2 separate regions of the Homo sapiens genome follow, and region 1 is linked to region 2. Evidence: fine-mapped expression QTL. A gene starts in region 2. The other region holds a variant in brackets. All regions are shown on one strand. Distances are between the middles of the regions.

Evidence for each region. PIP is the estimated chance that this variant, and not a neighbour inherited with it, causes the effect.
Region 1: its variant is fine-mapped to the expression of RIDA in unexposed skin (GTEx, PIP 0.98).

What each region holds. Positions count from the first base shown.
Region 1 is chr8:98,090,397-98,095,776 of GRCh38, forward strand. ERICH5 (glutamate rich 5) reads left to right here. Exons shown (of 3, transcript NM_173549.3): 3 at 2,825-3,213. The coding sequence ends at 2,937. Among named protein-coding and RNA genes, the nearest start is that of RIDA, 24 kb to the right of the region's middle. The variant T/C (reference allele first, on the strand shown) is at 3,102.
Region 2 is chr8:98,114,383-98,119,762 of GRCh38, forward strand. RIDA (reactive intermediate imine deaminase A) reads right to left here and starts at 2,789. Exons shown (of 6, transcript NM_005836.3): 1 at 2,650-2,789. The coding sequence starts at 2,714. POP1 (POP1 ribonuclease P/MRP subunit) reads left to right here and starts at 2,911. Exons shown (of 16, transcript NM_001145860.2): 1 at 2,911-3,008. RefSeq lists enhancers at 2,894-2,943, 3,014-3,183.

The DNA.
Region 1 (5,380 bases), 24 kb before region 2:
CTTCCAATGAAATGATATATACATAATGGATCTTAGAATGTTATTTTCATCTTTGTGAAGCTTATCTTAGAAAATGACTGTCAGGACAGGGTGCAGTGGCTCACACCTGTAATCCCAGCACTTCAGGAGGCAGAGGTGGGAGGATAGCTTGAGCCCAGCAGTTCATGACCTGCCTGGGCAACATAGTGAGACCTTGTTCTCCAGAAAAAAAAAAAAAAAGAAAGAAAAAAGGAAAAAGAAAATGACTGTCAGTCTGCTCTTGTTCTTCTGCAGTTTTAAAATCTGTATGAGAAGACCAGAGAAAATGTACTATGTCTTAGCATATGGTGTTTTAAAATTTTAACTGTATTTTACCAGCATAAAACAAATGATGTTTACAGTGTTCTTTATTGGTGTTATAATTTAAAAAAATATTTTCTTCTGGGGTATGATTTACATTTTGGTAAATTTTAGCTTCACAGTTCAGTATACTTAAGTGAAGCATTCATTATAATCATCCATCTGTTTTTGTTTAATTCTTTCATTTATTTATTTTATTTAATTAATTTATTTATTTTTTGAGATGGAGTCTTGCTCTGTTGCCCAGGCTGGAGTGCAGTGAAGTGATCTCGGCTCACTGCAACCTCCACCTTCTGCGTTCAAGCGATTCTCCCGCCTCAGCCTCCTGAGTAGCTGGGACTACAGGCGCACACCACCATGCCCGGCTAGTTTTTGTATTTTTAGTAGAGACGGGGTTTCACCACATTGGCCAGGCTGGTCTCCAGCTCCTGACCTCATGATCCACCCGCCTCGGCCTCCCAAAGTGCCGGGATTACAGGCATGAGCCACCATGTCTGGCCAATTCTTTCATTTATTAACTCAGCATTTTTTGGCATGCCTAAACATATGCTAGGTGCTGAGATGCAGACTGAGGAAGAGATAGTCTCTGTCCTCAAGGGGCTCACTGTCTAGTGTGGGAAGGCAGGATGTGCGTGCATCACCATAGTCTGTTGTGGGAACTGCTTTCCTAAGAATGTGTAAGAAGGGCCCTGGGAACAACTTGGGAGAGGCAAATAAAAGCAGGTAGTTTTTACATCAGGATTGGCAAACTCAAAAGTCTTTAGGCCTAGGATACTGAAAATGAGTGAGGTGAAGGACACATGTCATACTGTGGGAGCCCAGGGGACCTTGGCAAACAGGAGAGCACAGCCTTGTCAAAAGAGGAAGCTCCGCACAGCTCCAGCCATGGAACTAGGGCCAATGTTGCCAAAGCCAACTTCTCAGGGAAACAGGGTTTCCTGCAAGTGTGTGCAATGTCCAGACTTGTTAGTGTTGGCTGTCTGTAAATGTTTAACGATTGTTTTTAAACACATAATGGCCAAGCCAGACAGGTTTAGGGGCACCCCTGGACCACCCTTTGATTTAGATACAAATTAGACTTTCTTTTTCTTTCTTTTTCTTTTTCTTTCTTTCTTTCTTTCTTTCTTTCTTTCTTTCTTTCTTTCTTTCTTTCTTTCTTTCTTTCCTTTCTTTCTTTCTTTCTTCCTTTCTTTCTTTCTTCCTTTCTTTCTTTCTTCTTTCTTTCTTTTTTCTTTCTTTTTCTTCTCTCTCTCTCTCCCCTTCCTTCCTTCCTTCCTTCCTTCCTTCCTTTCGAGACAAGATCTTCAAGCTGGAGTGCAGTGATGCAATCACAGCTCACTATAATCTCCAACTCCTGGACTGAAGGGATCCTCTTGCCCCAGCTCTCAAGTAGCTAGGACTACAGGAATGTGCCACCATGCCTGGCTAATTTTTTTTTCTTTTAAAAAATTATTACTTTTGAGACAGAGTCTTGCTCTGTTACTCAGGCTGGAGTGCAGTGGTATTCTTAGCTCATTGTAACTTCTGCCTCCCAGCTCAATCCATTCTCCCTCCTCGGCCTCCTGAGTAGCTGGGCGCCACCATCCCTGGTTAATTTTTGTATTTTTTGTAGAAACAAGGTTTTACCATGTTGGCCAGGCCGGTCTCAGACCCTAGGCTCAAGCAATCTGCCTGCCTCAGCTTTCCAAATTGCTGGGATTATAGGCGTGAGCCACCACGCCCAGCTGTCCAGCTAATTTTTGAAAAATATTTTGTAAAGACAGGAGGTCTTGTTGCCCAGGCTGGTCTTGAACTCCTGGCCTCAAGTGATCCTCTTGCCTCAGCTTGCCAAAGCATTGGGATTACAGGTGGGAACCATCACACCTGGCCATGAACTTTCTATTATAATCTGTTCTACCACCATTTCTTTGGTAATTTTGCATCCTGATTTTATAGAGAGCATTTCTTTCATAAGAGTATGCCAAGACTCGAGATGTTAATTGACTCGACATTTCAGCCATTCAGAGGCTCTGAGAGAATCGAGATGATTACTTTTCTTTTCCTTTTTTTTTTTTTTTTGAGACAGAGTCTCGTTCTGTCGCCCAGACTGGAGTGCAGTGGCGTGATCTCAGCTCACTGCAACTTCTGCCTCCCGGCTTCAAGTGATTCTCTTGCCTCAGCCCCCCGAGTAGCTGGGATTACAGGCTTGTGCCACCATGCCTAGCTAATTTTTGTATTTTTAGTAGAGACGGGGTTTCATTACTTTGGGCTAGGCTCCTGAACTCCTGACCTCAGGCAATCCGCCTTCCTTGGCCTCCCAATGTGTTGGATTACAGGTGTTAGCCACGGTGCCCAGCTGAGATGATTACTTTTCTTGATACCCCCAGAGAAACTTACTGCTTAGACCTGAAGATCAAGAACTGCCCCCATTGGAGACAAACTGTGGGATAATTTATGTTAATTCTAAATAAATGTCTCTTAGTATCTCCTTTGGTTACTTTTCCAGGTGAGACAGGGGAAAAGGTGGAAACAGACATGGAGAATGAGAAAGTGAGTGAAGGGGCTGAAACCAAAGAAGAAGAAACAGGAGAAGTGGTGGACCTTTCAGCAGCCACATAGATAGAAGAGTGAACCGACACAGTGTGTTATCATAGAGGAGACAAAAATGGTAGTGAAGCTTGTGGTTATGTATCTTATCTTTCTACATTTACATGTTTTCTGTAAGGAGTGTGGTTATAGAGAGACTGTTGGAACCATGAGAAGGATGTTTCTGTGTTCTTGAT[T/C]ATATTGTTCTGCAAAACTGCTAAGCCATGAACAGTTTTCTTAGCTACTTAGAATGGTTATACATTTAAAAGTATAAAAACCAAAGCCAATAAAAATGATGTGATTATTTAAGAGTGTGAGGGTGACTTTCTTCATTGTGGCCATGGGGCCATTCAGTATAGAAAATGAGACCCTAAAAAGAAAGTGTAAACCTTTAGGTACAAGTGGCTAGAGAAAGGAGTTAGCAAATTTTAGGGAACTCACAATAATAAAGTCACACAATTATAATCATGATGGAATGAGAATGAACAACAGCAAAAATAATAGGATGAACTATACCAAATATTTCTGTCTTGTTATAGAATTCAGAGCTGATAAGAACCTTAGGAAGTATGTCATCTACACATTTGCTCTCCTTTAAGCTTGTCAACTACCACAGATCCTTATTTATCATGGAATATTAAATATGTTAACAGAATCCTTTGCAAAGGATTGCAACTCTGGTGCTATCACAAGGTTAGACATTTTTCATGATGAAAGGCTACACATTTTCCATGTGCCATTTCGAATCAGCTGTTGATTTTATACTCACATGAGGTTTTTCAATTGGTGTTATCCTTTTGAATAACATTAAAAGTATTTTTAATTAATTCACTTTTAAATGTATTTTGGAGACAATAAACAGCAAGGATTAAAACCTAGATTGTTGCTTATGTAGAGTCTATTCCTGGGCTCTACTCTTTTTTTCTTTTTTTTTTGGACATGGAGTCTTGCTCCGTCACCTAGGCTGGCGTGCAGTGGTGCGATCTCGGCTCACTGCAACCTCTGCCTCCTGGGATCAAACAATTCTCCTGCCTTAGCCTCCCGAGTAGCTAGGATTACAGGTGCTTGCTACCATGCCCAGATAATTTTTGTATTTTTGGTACAGATGGGAATTCACTATGCTGGCCAGGCAGGTCTTGAACTCCTGACCTTGTGATCCGCCTCCCAAAGTGCTGGGATTACATGTGTGAGCCATTGCACCTGGCCACTCTATTCTTTTTTAGATGACTGCAATTTAATGGTAGGCTTTAGTGATGGAAAAAGGCTAAGAAATCAAGATTTTAGAAGCATTTATGAGATTTCTTTAGTGATGCACCACAGAGTCAGTTTTTGAGAATTCTTCTGAAGTTGGCAAGGGATTTTGGCAAATGATTGTATGTGAATAATAAAAATAATAGCTAACTTGCCTACCAGTGAGTGTCTTGTGTGTTTGAGTATCAGAATAGAATTCTGGAAACATTTTGTTTATTTATCTTGTTTGTAAATAGGTATTTTTCTTTTTTAAAAAAATTCCTACTATTTCCTAAGTAAATATGTATTTTTAAGGTAACTGCTCAGATGAATTAACTAGTCTCTTTATTTTTATTTTTTATTTTTTGAGACAGGGTCTTGCTCTGTTGCCCAGGCTGCAGTGTAGTGGTGTGATCATGGCTGACTGCAAACTTGACTTCCTGGGCTCAAGCAATCCTCCCACCTCACCTCTCCTGAGTAGCTGGGACTACAGGCATGTGCCACCATGCCGGGCTAATTTTTGTATTTTTAGTAGAGACAGGGTTTCACCATGTTGCCCAGGCTGGTCTCGAACTCTTGAGCTCAAGCAATTCACCTGTCTCAGTCTCCCAAAGTGCTGGGACTACAGGCGTGAGCCACCCGGCCTAACTAGTCTCTTACTTTAGCTTCTACATTAAAATAACTACTAAGATGGCCTATAATTAATTATAAGAATATAGGATACAGGGAAAAACATATTCTCTTGATTCTGATTTTAATATTAATTTATGTTCTGACTGTAAAGTGCCGAGGAAGACAATAAAAGGAGTTCCCTGAGGAGATGACATCATCCTTTCTGCAAAGTAAAGGCACTGGATTGTGATTGCATTGAAGGCAAGCACTGTGTTTTATGTATTTTTGAATTCAGGCATTTAGCTCCTTTAATGGAATGTGGTACATACTTGATAAATATTTGTTGAATCAGTAAATGAATAACAAATACCAAGGAGTCCCATTTATACTTAATTCATTAAAAAATAATACATATAAAATATAAATTTGGCTGGGCATGGTGGCTCACGCCTGTAATCCCAGCACTTTGGGAGGCCAAGGCGGTGGATCTCTTGAGTCCAGGAGTTCAAGACCAGCCTGGGCAACACGGTGAGACCCCATCTCTACAAAAAATATAAAAAATTAGCTGGGCATGATGCCATGTGCCTGTAGTCCCAGCTACTCAGGAGGCTGAGACTCAAATCTTTTATTTTCA
Region 2 (5,380 bases):
TGGTGCGATCTTGGCTCACCGCGACCTCTGCCTTCCAGGTTCAAGCAATTCACTGCCTCAGCCTCCCGAGTAGCTGAGATTACAGGCATACGCCACTATACCCAGCTAATTTTTTTTTTTTTTTGGTATTTTTAGTAGAGACGGGGTTTCACCATCTTGGCCAGGCTGGTCTTGAACTCCTGAGCTTGTGATCCACCTGCCTCGGCCTCCCAAAGTGCTGGGATTACAGGTGTGAACCACTGTGCCTGGCCAAAATCTAATTTTTGTTGGTCACTTTTATTTAATTCCCACAATAATCTTATCAAATGGTATTATTTATGCCCATTGAGAAGACAAAGAAGCAAACTAAGAGAGGTTAAGTCACTCTGCAAGATCATATAATTAAAAAGAGGCAAAACAAAAATTCAAATCCAAAGTCCAACTCTTAATCAGTATTTCTCAAAGGAGTCAGTCATACACAGTAAGACTTATACACAGTCTTACATAGTAAGAAAATGATTCCTTTTCCAATTTTTTTTTTCAATCTACACCAGGGACAACAAAGTAAATGATTAAGACTAGGCTCTAGTACCCATTTCCTAAATTCAAATTTTGTTACATCACTTTTTAGTGGTGTAACTTTTGGCAAATTATTTAATTTTGCACACATCAGTTTCTTCATCTGAAAAATAGGGACTATAATATAACCATGCACATAAATAACTTAGAACAGTGCCTGGTGCTGGCCAGGCATGGTGGCTGACACCTGTAATCCGAGTACTTTGGGAAGCCGAGGTAGGTGGATCGCTTTAGGTCAGGAGTTCAATACCAGCCTGACCAACACAGTGAAACCCTGTCTCTACTAAAAATACAAAAATTAGCCGGGTGTGGTGGCACCTGCCTGTAATCCCAGCTACTTGGGAGGCTGAGACATGAGAATCACTTGAATCTGTGGGGTGGAGGTTGCAGTGAGCTGAGATTGCACCACTGCACTCTAGCCTGGGCAACAGAGTGAGACTCTGCCTCCAAAAAAAAAAAAAAAAAAAAAAAAAAAGGGATAGTGCCCAATGCTGCTGAGTAAGCATCAGTAAATGTTAGCAATGATGACTCTACCCCGTTTGATTACATTAAGGAGAAAAAAAATCATCTTTAGAAAACAAATTAAAACATCACTTGAAAGTTTTTAATTAAACTTTTTTTTTTTTTTAAATAGAGATGGGGGTCTCACTATGTTGCCCAGGCTGGTCTTGAACTCCTGACCTCAAGCAATCCTCTTACCTCGGCCTCCCACAGTGCTGGGATTACAGGCGTGAACCACAGTACCCGGCTAAAGAAACATCACTCTTAACAAAGAGAGAGCAGGCCTCAGGTTTTGAGCCAACTGCAATATCTAGCTAAAATTTAATAATACCTTTTTTTAATTGAGTTTATTTTTTACTATTACTTTCTATTGAATTGTTTTCTATTTAGTGTACTGTTGTAAAGTTTCCTTTTTCAATTAACTTGTTAAATAAAATGAAGTGAGCCATCTCAAAGAAATAGGTTAAGTAAATTATAAGTGATATACAGATTTGGCAAACAAACAAACAAAAAAGACAGAAGTAGCACTTGAATTATGAAAACTTTCTCCCCAAAATCTTTATACCATGCATTCTTCTACCTCCATGCCCTCACTCAAGCCATTCCCTCTACCTGACTTCTACCTCCATGCCCTTCACTCAATGACTTCCTGTTGAAATCCTTAATAAATTAATTTAAAAATCAAACTTTACAACACTACTATAAATGACAAAACCAACCTTCAAAACCAAAGGACTACCTCTCACAAGGAACCTTCCTAAATCTTCTTTTTCCTCTTCCACCCCAAGTTAAAATCAATTTGTCTTTTTTCTCCTTTACTCCCTACCCCACTTGCCCTCTCACTTCTACTGCATTTTATTTATTTCCAAGTTTTCTATAATAATTCCTGTTCTGCCACATCTCAGTGCCTTTTCTCACAGCAGTAGGTTTAAAGGAGGGAGCTGTTGATGGGGCTCTTTTCAGTTGGGAGAGAGGCAGACCAAGTATGAAGCTAATGAAAGAAGTTGGTCATAAAGGACTGCATGTTTTATGATTCAATTTATAGGAAATGTCCACAACAAGCAAATCCATGAAGATGCAAGTAGATTGTCAGGGGCCGGGGGAGAGGAGAATGGGGAGTGAATGCTAATGGGGATGGGATTTATTTTTGGGGTGATGAAAATGTTCTGAAGAAAGTGGTGATGGCTGCACAACTCTGTGAGTATGGTCAAAACCACTGAATTGTACATGTTAAAGGGGGTGAATCTTACGGTACGTGAATTATATCTCAATAAAGCTGTTACCAAGAAAACAAAAACGACCCCCTCCCCCAAAACAAAACACAGGGTCTGAAGGCTTCTAACTGGGGAGAGCTTTCTGGCAGGCTGTGCTCCGCAGCGAGGCAGCCCCAGAACGAGCAAAGTCCCATGGAGTGCAGGTTCCTGGTCCCATCGTGGCTCCCAACTCTCTGTGGGTCTTCGGGCGCGTTGCTTACTTTCCAGGCTCAATTTCCTTGCGTGTTAGCTGGGGCTCCGGCCCGGAGTGGCCCCAACCCCGAATCCCCGAACCCGCACGCCCTGGGTCCGACACAGCTTCCACCAGCCACGTTACCTGTAGGGTCCAATGGCCCCTGGGGCTTTCGCGGTGCTGATCACCCTTCTGATCAAGGACGACATGGCTAAGCCTTCCCTCTTGCAGCCCCTTCAGGAGAAGAAGCCCCAGCACCAGCCCTGCTGGCTTCTTACTGGACTGACCAACCACAGCAGCGCCTCTGCCCCACAGCTCCCGCTGGGGGCGGGCTCGTGCGGCATTCTGGGAACTGTAGTTTCGGCGACGCTCCAGGCCACGTGGAGGAAGCGCCCGGTCTGGCGCATGCGCTCTCCAGCGCGCTCTCCAGGAGCTTTGGCTCGGTGGGTACTGTCGCGGAGGCTTGTCATTCTGACCCGGGGATTCCTCACAGCGTCTGGCAGGTTGGTCGTGAGGGGCTGGTGCCTTCCAGGATGCGAGTGTCGGGGGAACTGTATGCGGCGGCCCCCCTCCCGGCGCCCGTCTCCCCTCTTCATCGTTTCTCTCTCAGACTCCGCTGACCTCTTTCCTTGCTGCCTGTGCCCGGGGCCCCTCTCCCTGGTGTCGCATCTCCTTCGGCCCCTGCGCTGGAGCCCCCTACGTCAGTCATTTCCCTTCATTGCCCCGCCGGGTGGAGGCCGTCCTGGGAATGGGCTTGCATCCCCTCTTCTGCAACCCCAAATGACTAATATGGGTCATTCTGGCGACCACGCTGAGATCTGGGCGTTGGTCCTCCCGTGTTCCCTTTCCTGCTCCTCCTGTGTTCCCTTCTCTAGGGTGCTCCTCGGGCTTTACAAGGTCACTGTCTGAACAGAGCCCTAGTGATTGGGATATCATTTCAGAAAGAAAGATGGTGATCTGGAATGGCCCAGATCCCTTGTAAGTATTCTGCTGTGTCAGAAGGGGTGGTACTTGGCTAAATATTTCTTATCCTGTTAATATTTGCATTGTAAGTACGCTTCGTTTCTTCATTTATGCGGGCACTCATAGATATATGAGTCCCTACTTTGTGTAAGGCACTCTGCTAGATGCTAGGAGGAATGCAACAGTTAAAAAAAATAATAATAAAATCTCTGCCTTCCCTGCTTCCTAAAGATAATACAAGAAAATCTGCTTTATTCCCTCTCATTTTGTCCTACATACTGCTAAGGTTTTGGCCTTCCTACTTCCGGCTCAGGAACCTTCTGATCTTTTTCATTGGTTTGGGGCCTGGAATAAAAGACCTTTCAGTCTGGCCTCCCCTTGCCTATTCAAGTTTCATTGTCATCTACTCCCTTTTCCCACTAGAGTCCTCCTGTATTCACACTGTGGATTCCTGAATACTCTTTCTTCCTTATCTGTGCAAATTCCAGCTAACTGAAATTCTATTTTCTCTTTGACTTTTCCTACCAATTCACATTTTTTTCTTTTTCTTCTTTCCTTCCTTTCCTTTTCTTTTTCTTTGTTTTCTTTCTTTCAAGACAGGATCTCACTCTGTCACCCTGGCTGGAGTACAGTGGCATGATCTTGGCTCACTGAAACCTTGACCTCCTGGGCTGAAGCAATCCTCCAGCCTGAGCATCTCAAGTAGTTGGGATTACAAGTGCACACCAGCACGCCCGGCTAATTTTTGTATTTTCTGTGGAGACGGGGCTTCTTCATATTGGCCAGGCTGGTCTCCAACTCTTGGGCTCAAGCAATTCTCCCACCTCAGCCTCCCAAAGTGCAGGGATTACAGGTGTAACCATTATGCCCGGCCTCATTTTTTTTCTTTCCCTTGTCCTGTTTCCTATTGTGCTGTACCGCATAATTTAGTATTTTATTATATGAGATCCTATTTTCTAATTGTTATGTGTTTCAAGAATAGTGGATTGGAGAGGGAAGGGGTGGAAAAAAAAAAAAGAATAGTGGATAGAGTCAGACTGCCTGGTTTGAATCTCAGCACAATCACAAGCTTAGTAGCCTTGGACTGGTATATAAAATCTCTGTGCTTCGATTTCTTCATTTATAAGATGAGAATAATACTAGTGACCACAGAGTTGTGAGAATTAAATGAATAAGTCATGTAGAATAGTGCCTGCCACATCAAGTTCTCAATGCTGCCTAAGATGACAAAATTCTTATTCTACTTTGGAATTATACACAGCCTGAAACTATTGGGCACATAGTAGGTGCCCAAAAGTTTATTAAATCTGATTAAACTAGATAATTAAGACATATTTTTATTTACAAAATAATTCACCATTTAAGTTTTTAAATAAGAAGCTATTTTGGAGCATTACAAATGATTCAACTTGTGTAAAATATTTCTTGTGAAACAAGGTACCTTTATTCTTAAGACAGATTTTATATCAAGTCTGAATCACCAACTTTTTAGATCTGGAAGAAAATAGACATCATCTAGTTAGTTCCCAGGTTCTCAAACTGGGAACTAACTAACACCAAAGGTTGTGTCTGGCCAGAGGATACTAAGCTGTATCAGAAAACATAACGTATCCATTTTATTTGAAGATTTGGCGAAAATATTTTTATAAAGGCAGCACATATTTAGTGCTTATTAAAGTTTGACAAAACTGACTTGAAGGTGAAGGTAAGAGTTAAGATTCCTTCTGGAAACTTTTTTTTTTGAGACAGGGTCTTGCTCTGTCACCCAGGCTGGAGTGCAGTAATGTGATCAAGGCTCACTCACTGCAGCCTTGACCTCCCTGTCTCAAGCGATCTTCCCACTTCAGCCTCCCGAGTAGGTGGGACCACAAGCTCATAACTATGCCTAGCTTATTTTTTGATTTCTTTGTAG